2 separate regions of the Homo sapiens genome follow, and region 2 is reported to be linked to region 1. The links are microRNA targets in miRTarBase. Many come from high-throughput screens and were not tested one by one. Region 1 holds a microRNA gene; the other region holds the end of a gene's coding sequence.
Evidence for each region. The annotated mature microRNA hsa-miR-4441 reads ACAGGGAGGAGAUUGUA and lies in region 1 at 1,866-1,882, shown strand. An mRNA with a match to its seed (bases 2 to 7 or 8) in the 3' UTR can be bound and repressed. Matches are read on the target gene's strand: a 7mer-m8 pairs with bases 2 to 8, a 7mer-A1 pairs with bases 2 to 7 and ends in A, and an 8mer does both.

Region 1 (4,632 bases):
CCAACTCTGCTAAAAGTTGAGTGTGCAACCATTTTCCCGTGGCTACAAAGTGTGTCTTTTGTTGCTCTCTCCTGGCTGTCTGGTGTCACCTGCAGAATGGCTTTGCTGTGGTCCGCCCCCCTGGACACCATGCGGAGGAGAGCACGCCCATGTGAGTACACGCCGCAGCCCCGCACAGCAGGGGAACCCAGGTCTTCCTTCCCTCCCTTAGGGCTGGGTGGGTGTGTGAGTGACTGCGGGGAGCTGGGCTGCTGTTTGCTGGCCACCCAGGATGTGCCGCATGCCGGCTTGGCTCCAGCTCCTGGGTGTGGAGTGCAGATGCCAAAGTCTGCGAGCATCACTGCTCGGTTATGACGGAGACAGATCAGAGGAAAGGATGGGAAAGGGTCTGTGGAGGTTAGTCCAGAGAAGCCTCTGGTTGTTGAGTAGTTGTCAACACTTGGGAGAGGAAACACCACTCACCCTCAAGTGAGTCACTGCAGCACTTGCTTGTCTAGAGGACTCAGGTCATTTTGCGCATGGCCTTTTAGCTGCCTGCCGAATGCCTGGTACTGACGCAGCAAGCCACAGAGCCACGTCCATGCAGGCAGCTATCCTGATGCTGTTTCGGGTCTTTCAGAGACTGCCGACGGTCCATACAGCTGAGGATCTGGGCAGGGTGGCGAGTGTGGGGTGTGGGTCCTCCCGGATCCATCCCTGTGTGTCCAGAGCCAGTGGCAGGACAGACCCGCAGCTGTCTGTGGAGTGCCTTGCAGCCTGGGTGGTGAATGAATGATCTATCCCGTCAAAGAGCATGCTGTCTCCTGGGACGGTAGCCGCTCTAGTGAGGAGGGGTGGTGCTAGAAAGAGCGTCTCCCCATGCTCTGGAGATGGAGAAGGCGTGCCTGATCTTGCCAGCTTCGGTGAGGAGGAGGTGGCATAGGGCTCTGCCTTGGAGAGTTGGAGCAGCAGTTTGTCAGATGGCAACGCAAGAACAAGTGCAGATACAAGTTCACTATCAGGCTGTGGCCAGGAAGCAGTCAGAACAAGACAGAACCGCAGGGGCCCGGGAAAGGGCCTCCCTGTCACCCCTGGGAAGTCAGGCGTCCACGGAGGGGCCGGCAGGACGTGAGAGATAGTCAGATCCGCGTGTTAGAGCAGAATCTCCTTCACGTACAGGGAGGAGACTGTACGTGAGAGATAGTCAGATCCACATGTTAGAGCAGAGTCTCCTTCGTGTGCAGGGAAGAGATTGTACGTGAGAGACAGTCAGATCCGCGTGTTAGAGCAGATTCTCCTTCATGTACGGGGAGGAGACTGTACGTGAGAGATAGTCAGATCCGCGTGTTAGAGCAGATTCTCCTTCATGTACAGGGAGGAGACTGTACGTGCGAGATAGTCAGATCCGCGTGTTAGAGCAGAGTCTCCTTCGTGTACAGGGAAGAGACTACGTGCGAGATAGTCAGATCCGCGTGTTAGAGCAGAGTCTCCTTCATGTGCAGGGAGGAGACTGTACGTGAGAGATAGTCAGATCCGCGTGTTAGAGCAGAGTCTCCTTCGTGTACAGGGAAGAGACTGTACGTGCGAGATAGTCAGATCCGCGTGTTAGAGCAGAGTCTCCTTCGTGTACAGGGAAGAGACTACGTGCGAGATAGTCAGATCCGCGTGTTAGAGCAGAGTCTCCTTCATGTGCAGGGAGGAGACTGTACGTGAGAGATAGTCAGATCCGCGTGTTAGAGCAGAGTCTCCTTCGTGTACAGGGAAGAGACTGTACGTGCGAGATAGTCAGATCCGCGTGTTAGAGCAGAGTCTCCTTCGTGTACAGGGAGGAGACTGTACGTGAGAGATAGTCAGATCCGCATGTTAGAGCAGAGTCTCCTTCGTGTACAGGGAGGAGATTGTACGTGAGAGATAGTCAGATCCGCGTGTTAGAGCAGAGTCTCCTTCATGTACAGGGAGGAGATTGTACGTGAGAGATAGTCAGATCCGCGTGTTAGAGCAGAGTGTCCTTCGTGTACAGGGAGGAGATTGTAACCGCCAGGGAGGGATGCTTGTTGGAATCTTTGTAGCTTTACCTGAAAACCACGTGTTTGCTCCACATCCCAGAACAGTCACTTGGGCACCAGGCTTCCTGTTTGTTTCATTTCTCTGAAGTTTCTTTTCTAATTTGAACCTGAGTTGTTGGATATTCCAAATAATAAACCTCAGAGGAGACAAACGAATTGTGTTTTGTTGCAGCTCTTCGCTGTGCTCCCCGTGAGCCGCTGCAGGAGCTCAGCGTCTAGGATGTCCTGGGGCGTGTGGGCTTCCCCATGCCAGCCCGGATTCTGAAAACAAAACAACTAGTGTTTCTCCGTTTCTGTGGTCATTCGGACAAAGGGAATTTGAGATCAAGAAGGTTTTCGTTGTTATTTGAATCACTTTCATAGCTTGTTTTCTTGGTCTCTTGAGTAAGACTCTCTAAAATTAAAGGTAATTTATGTATTGGAATATAGGAAGGTCAGCAGGAAGCAACTGAGATGAACGGCTGCCATGTCTCCTGGGGCGTGGCGGCAGCTCCTGAGAGGAAGGGTTCCAGGTGAAGATGAGGGAAATGTTGGTAACATGTGAAATAGGGTTCCCTACCAGAGGAGCGTGGGGGACCTCCAAGCAGGAGAGTGTGTGTGTGTGTGTGTGTGTGTGTGTGTGTCTGTCTGTCTCAGTATGGAACTGTGGATGTGTGTGATAGGTATATGCTTATGTGTATATGTGTGTGTGTGCTTGTATGTGTCTGTGGTTTGTGTGTGTGTGAGTGTTTCTGTATGGGGTGTTCATGTGTATCTGTGCATGTGTGTCTACGTGGGGGGGGTGGGTATGGGCGTATCTGTGGGGCATATATGTGTGTAGGGCGTTTGCATGGTGTGTGTGTCTCTATCTGTGGGGTGTGGGGTGTGTGTGGGGTGTGTGTCTGTGTGGAGTGTGTGTGGGGTGTGTGTCTGTGGTGTATGGGCGTATCTGTGGGGCATGTATGTGTGTAGGGCGTGTTGCATGGTGTGTGTGTCTGTGTGGGAGGGTGTGTCTCTGTGGTGTGTGTGTCTGTGTGGGGTGTACGTGTGTCTCTGTCTGTGGTGTGTGTGTCTGTGGGGGGTGTGTGTGTGTCTCTGTCTGTGGTGTGTGTGTCTGTGTGGGGTGTGTGCATGTCCGTGTCGGTTAGCCGACCCTATGGCATTGGCTAAGATTCCCCAGTGGCTTGTTTGGGAGCTGTGTGTGTGTGTGTGTGTGTGTGCGCGCGCACGCGTGTGAGTGTGTCTGCATGTGGGGTGTGTACGTGTCTGTCTGTTAACCGATTCTCCGGCATCACTGAGGGTTCCCTGCGACGTATTCAGGAGCTCTGCACTCACAGAGACCTCTTAGGTCTGCGTGGACCCCGAGTGGCTCTCTGGCGGGCCGTGGAGAAACTGGCCACCGCCCACCTGCGCTTCGTCTCCAGCGTCAGTTCTCTCCCGCAGGGGCTTTTGCTACTTCAACTCCGTGGCCGTGGCAGCCAAGCTTCTGCAGCAGAGGTTGAGCGTGAGCAAGATCCTCATCGTGGACTGGGTAAGCAGAGCCGCCTTGGCCAGCGCAGCTCAGGTTGCTCCTTTGCCGTCCCCGAGCGGACAGCAGCGTGTGGACAGAGGAGCTGGGCTCTTGGATGTGGGAAGCTTAGGTTTCTGGAAACGGTCTCAAAGATGCGGAGAAGTAAAGCCCCAAACCTGCTACAAGTCATTGTACAGCTTCCGTCAGCCGACCCTGGCGAATGGGGTCCTGGCGTGTCTAAAAATGTGCCTGTGGGTGACGGCAGCGGCCAGGGCCACCCTCGACGAGATCTTCTTGGAAGACAGGTGTTGGGGAGGAGGCTGTGTCCACATCTACTTTGCGTGTGTGGCCTGGGAGCCTGGGAGGACCCTCACCCTGGTCGAAGGCGGCAGTCTGCTTCTCAGTCACCCCAGTGAAGCCCGTGCCTTCCTGCTGCTGTGTGGGCACCTGGTCCTGCTGGAATGGGGGGTGCCACTGCCCCCAAAAGAGTCATCTCTTTTTAAATAATGCTATATGATGTCCGAATCTGAATTCCACGAATAGGTATACTCATTCTTATACCGGAAATTAATATTCAAGATATTCATCTTATTACTCTTTTTAAAGCCAGATATATACATATTTAGTGTTCTCTTTGGTATTTATGATTTATTTCATAATTTTTAAGGGAAAAAAGCAGGCCCTGTCAGGTAGGGTTATGATTTGAATTGGAGAAGTCCTTCTGAGTTTGGGTAAAGAAACAATATGGCACAGCCAGGACAGCCATGCTGTTTCGGAGAGGCAGGTCAGGGGATGCGGCAGAGCAGCGGGTCCCCCACACCCAAGGACCTGCGAGCCGGGAGCCCTCCCTCAGCTCCTCCTAAGGGAGCAGGTAGGAGTGCCTGGGAAGAGAGCAGTGTGAGGTCGCTGATGGCTAAAGACTGGGGACCCATCCCCAAAAGAGTGAAGCGCTAGGACACGCAGACAGGCTGCGTAGACCCTGTGTGGCGTGCTCCCTGCGCGCTGAGCTGTGATATTGCCCATGTACACACCATGCGGACAGGGTCATCTCAGTGTGAAGCCACATGTCGGGAAAGCCTCCATGTGCGTCTTCACAGC
Region 2 (3,816 bases), not on the chromosome of region 1:
TCCCGAGAGCCCTGCTTAGACATCGGCCACCTCCCCACTCCCGCCCCACCAGACTGAAATTGCTAAACTTGTGGCCTCTTACCTTGACACATTTCCGAAATCACTGCCAAGGGACAGCTGGCTTCTCCGCGCGGCGACGCTCGCGAGGCCTAGCGAATGCGCGTTGCTTTAAATTACCATACCAATCACTTCTTGAGGGTGAGTCCCCTTTTTCTGTTATGAAGGGGAGCGGGACAAGTGAAATAATGTACCGTGCTGCTCTTAGTATCAGAAGCGAACAAAGGCCAAGAATCATGCTGGGGTTCCCGGCTCCCCGGCGGCTTTGACATTGATCGGAAGTGCGCCATCTCGTGGCGGCTGCGCGCCTAGGTTGGGCCGGAGTTCCAGCCCCGAGCCGAGAGACGGAAACCAGCTCCGGGCAGAGAGAGAAGGAGAGAGGAGAGGATGTGCCCAGCCCGCTGCTATTGAGATCTCATTTTTACATCTAAGAAATCGCTGCAAAACCCCAGCCGGGTTTATAGCGGCGCATTCCAAATATGCAAATTGGCCGGCCCCGGACGGGTTTACGACCACATTGTCACAGCCATCGGAGGATGGGCTTTTATAGGGCTCAGAAATCAAACCCGCGCCCGCCCGCCGCCCGCCCGCGAGCAGTCCTCCTGGCTAGACTCTCTCTAGCAACTTGAGAGACTTTGGTTAATCTTTAACCATCCCAAAGGAAGTCTTTCCCTAAACCCAGGCTTCCCAGCCCGCCCCCTCCCTGCCCCCCAGGAGGGCCCTTGTTCATGTCTGCGTGTCTGCCTATCAACCTAGACATTCATCTCTAGATCTGTCCCACTACCCTTTCAGCTCGATTTCCCCAGTCGCGCCAGTTAGACAAACACACAAACAAATAAACAGAGTGGGGTCTGGGGCCTCTCTCCAAATGCGACCCTATCTGCTGCTCTGGCCCTGCCTGGGTGGCTGAAGAGAGGGTGGGGTGGGCAACAAAGGGCTCTGTCCTTTCAGCCCTTCTCCTCAAGGTTATGGGTGATGTCCAATTTTAAGGCAGAAGTTCAAAGGCAGCAAACAAAGAGGAAATCGGCATCCTTTTTTTTTCCCCCAAAGGGAAAAAGCAGCCTCAGCTGGGAGCTGGGGAGAAAGCACCCTTAGAGGCTCCTGGGAGTCTGCTCTGCCTTGGAACCCAGACCAGGCTCCCTCTTGTTGAAGCCTCCACGGGCCCCCGGACGGTCCCACTGCAGGCCTACCTGTCCTGAGGTGAGCGAGGGCAGCCTGGGGTCTGACCTGTTGGCCACCTCAGGCCCCAAGGCCCTCTCCAGGGCTGAGATCAGTCTGAGGGGATAAAGTCCTATATTCCAGGCCCTGAGATACCACCCAGGTCCCCACTTCCCACAAGGACGTAGCCAACCACCTTGGTTTCCTAAGCCTGGCTTCTGTTGTAGCCAATTCCTGACTCAGTCACCTTCTCACCCCCTCAGGGGCCTGATAACTTGCTCCTCAACTAGGTAAGGCATTTTTTGGGGGGGTGGGGGGAGGGGGGCAGACATTTGGTAGTAAAAGGCGATCAGGGAGAGGAATGTCACACCAGGATACTCAAATTTCCACCGTCTTTATTTTCCTTGTGCCCAGTTGCCTGTATAAGTGCTGCAACACACACGGTGGGTAAGAACCAGAATTGAGGACAGGCCAACACTCCCAGTACAAATGGAGCCAACAGACATTTCTTAACACAGGGAGGCAAAGGAGATTCAATGGGAGGGTGCCTGGCTTTCCCAGATGAGATCCCCAGGCCGGCCAGGCCGACTGCCTCTGAGCATTTCCCTAACTCTTTCCAAATGTTGCAAGAGATTAAAAAGACCATTCTCAATACCTTTTCCACCCCCTCCAACACCCTAAAGGAAATCAACTAATGGCAAAAGAAAAAAGAAAAAGAGAAAGAAAGAAAAGAAAATTGATTATGGTTCCTTTATTTACAAGTTTTTTGAACACCATCCCTGTATGAAGCATACATTCAAATATTCTTAGCAGTGAGCGAGTTTAACCACGGAACACTGTAAACAGATAGGGCCTTTAAATATTTTCATCATCTCTTTTCCCCTCTACATTGCATCTTTTAAAATTCGCTTTGGTTCCTTCAGGGAAATATATATATATATAATATAATATTTATCTTTTAAAATAATTCCACCTCACTCTCAGGCTCTTGGAAGGTCACCAGAAGCTTCCAAGCTCAGTTCAAGAGCCAATGAGGGCTGAGTGTGGTGCTGGAACCCGGTGTTTTGGGGGACTCAAGGCCCTCATAGCCAAAGCTGGGGACCTGCTGGCCAGGCCCACTGCTCTGCAGCCAGACACTGAGCAAATCCAAGTTTCATTACGTGTGGTGGAGAGTTTGCCAAACTGCCACACTCCACAGCCATTTCCTGCAGAGATCTCAGGGGCCAGTGGCCTGGCTGCAGCCTCTTGGCTTTTCCACATCTCCCACCTCAGGGAACAGTCCACTCTGTGTCGAGGCTTTGGGCCTGAGTGGCAGGCTGGAACCAAGACCCTCATTTGGTAGAAAGAAAAGCCAGGTGGGCTGTAGGAGGCGGTGGCTAGGAACTCAGGGCTGGATCAGTGTGGTGGGTGGCTAGGAGGAGTGGAAAGACACTGATGCCACCTGGAATCATAGATTTCTTTTCCCACAAGGATTTGCAGCCCTCTTCCACCTCAAAGCTACCTCCAAGTCCAGCCGCTGTTCACATTGGCTTTGGAAAGCAGCCTCATTCTGGGCACCTAGTAATCCTACCCCTTCCTCCTGCCCCTGTCCCCAAGCTGAACTGGGCTTGGAGAGCACACAGCTTTTTTACTCAGGGGTCCTGGGGGTGGGTAGGCTCCCAGTAGAGGGAGGGTGTGGTGGGGTTAGTCTCCAGGGGGTCTGGCAGGGGCCCAATCCCCAGTGGAGACCACACCCAGCCCGCAGCTCTGCAGGCTCCAAGAGTGAACCACCAGGGGTCCCAAACCTGTCATTCTAGCTGATGCACAGCTCTCAGAATCCAATGATTATTAGGAATCTTAACCACTGAGATCTTAATCAAGAGAGTCCCAGACCACCTCCTGTGGGGCTATCTCCATGCATCCCTCTCTTGCACACCTCTTTTCAAAAGTCACCATGTGGCTTGACTTTGTCAAGGGCAAAATCTGCATATTATCTCATGTGTATGAAGCCCCCCACCCAATTCCAGCCGCTGGAGTCTTAGAGGAGTGGATTTGCTGAGTAGTACTGTAAACGGTCTCTGTTAATTTTTTTTTCCTTCATTCTCCTGTTCTGAAACCAGATTTTGACTTGACGATCAGTGAGGTTGAGCATGCGGGACAGTTGCAGGCGCTTCTCTTTGTTAATGTAGACGCTGAAGAAGAACTCCCGTTCCAGCTCTCGGATCTGGTACTTGGTATAGGGGCAGCGCTTTTTGCGGGTGCGTTGGCCACCTGTGGAGGGAGAAAAGGCATGGGGTGAGCCAGGTGTGGGGGCTGCAATCCACCCCAGAGCCCATAGCTGAGGAGAAGGGCTGCCATGGGGACTGGTGGTCCAGCCCAAGCCCCGTCAAAGTCTGCCCAGGCCCCTGCCTTTAACGCTCCGACTGCATGCTTGGAACGGCCGCAGTTGGAGGCTCAGCCACAGATAAAAGCCAGCTCCCTAAATAGGCCCCCGGGGAAGCTGCTCCCGCTGCCCCCAGAACAGAAAGGAGAGCTTCGCACAGCAACAGGCGAGTTTGCGCTGCCTAAGCCTCTTTGAAAGCAGCCAAGTGGGGGTTGCCGGCTGCCTCTCGCAGGCCAGAC

Region 2: the mRNA of HOXA11 is a reported target of hsa-miR-4441. Seed matches in the 3' UTR shown: 7mer-A1 at 2,484-2,490, 7mer-A1 at 2,135-2,141 and 7mer-m8 at 1,731-1,737.

Annotation. Positions count from the first base shown.
Region 1 is chr2:239,083,078-239,087,709 of GRCh38, reverse strand. MIR4441 (microRNA 4441) reads left to right here and starts at 1,784; the gene lies at 1,784-1,883. It overlaps HDAC4 (histone deacetylase 4), which reads left to right. Exons shown (of 27, transcript NM_001378414.1): 19 at 96-151; 20 at 3,468-3,555.
Region 2 is chr7:27,179,564-27,183,379 of GRCh38, forward strand. HOXA11 (homeobox A11) reads right to left here. Exons shown (of 2, transcript NM_005523.6): 2 at 1,594-3,465. The coding sequence ends at 3,233. HOXA10-HOXA9 (HOXA10-HOXA9 readthrough) reads right to left here and starts at 676. Exons shown (of 3, transcript NM_001433944.1): 1 at 83-676. The coding sequence starts at 92. It also overlaps a transcript of HOXA10 not described here. RefSeq lists enhancers at 1-178, 179-780, 3,268-3,816.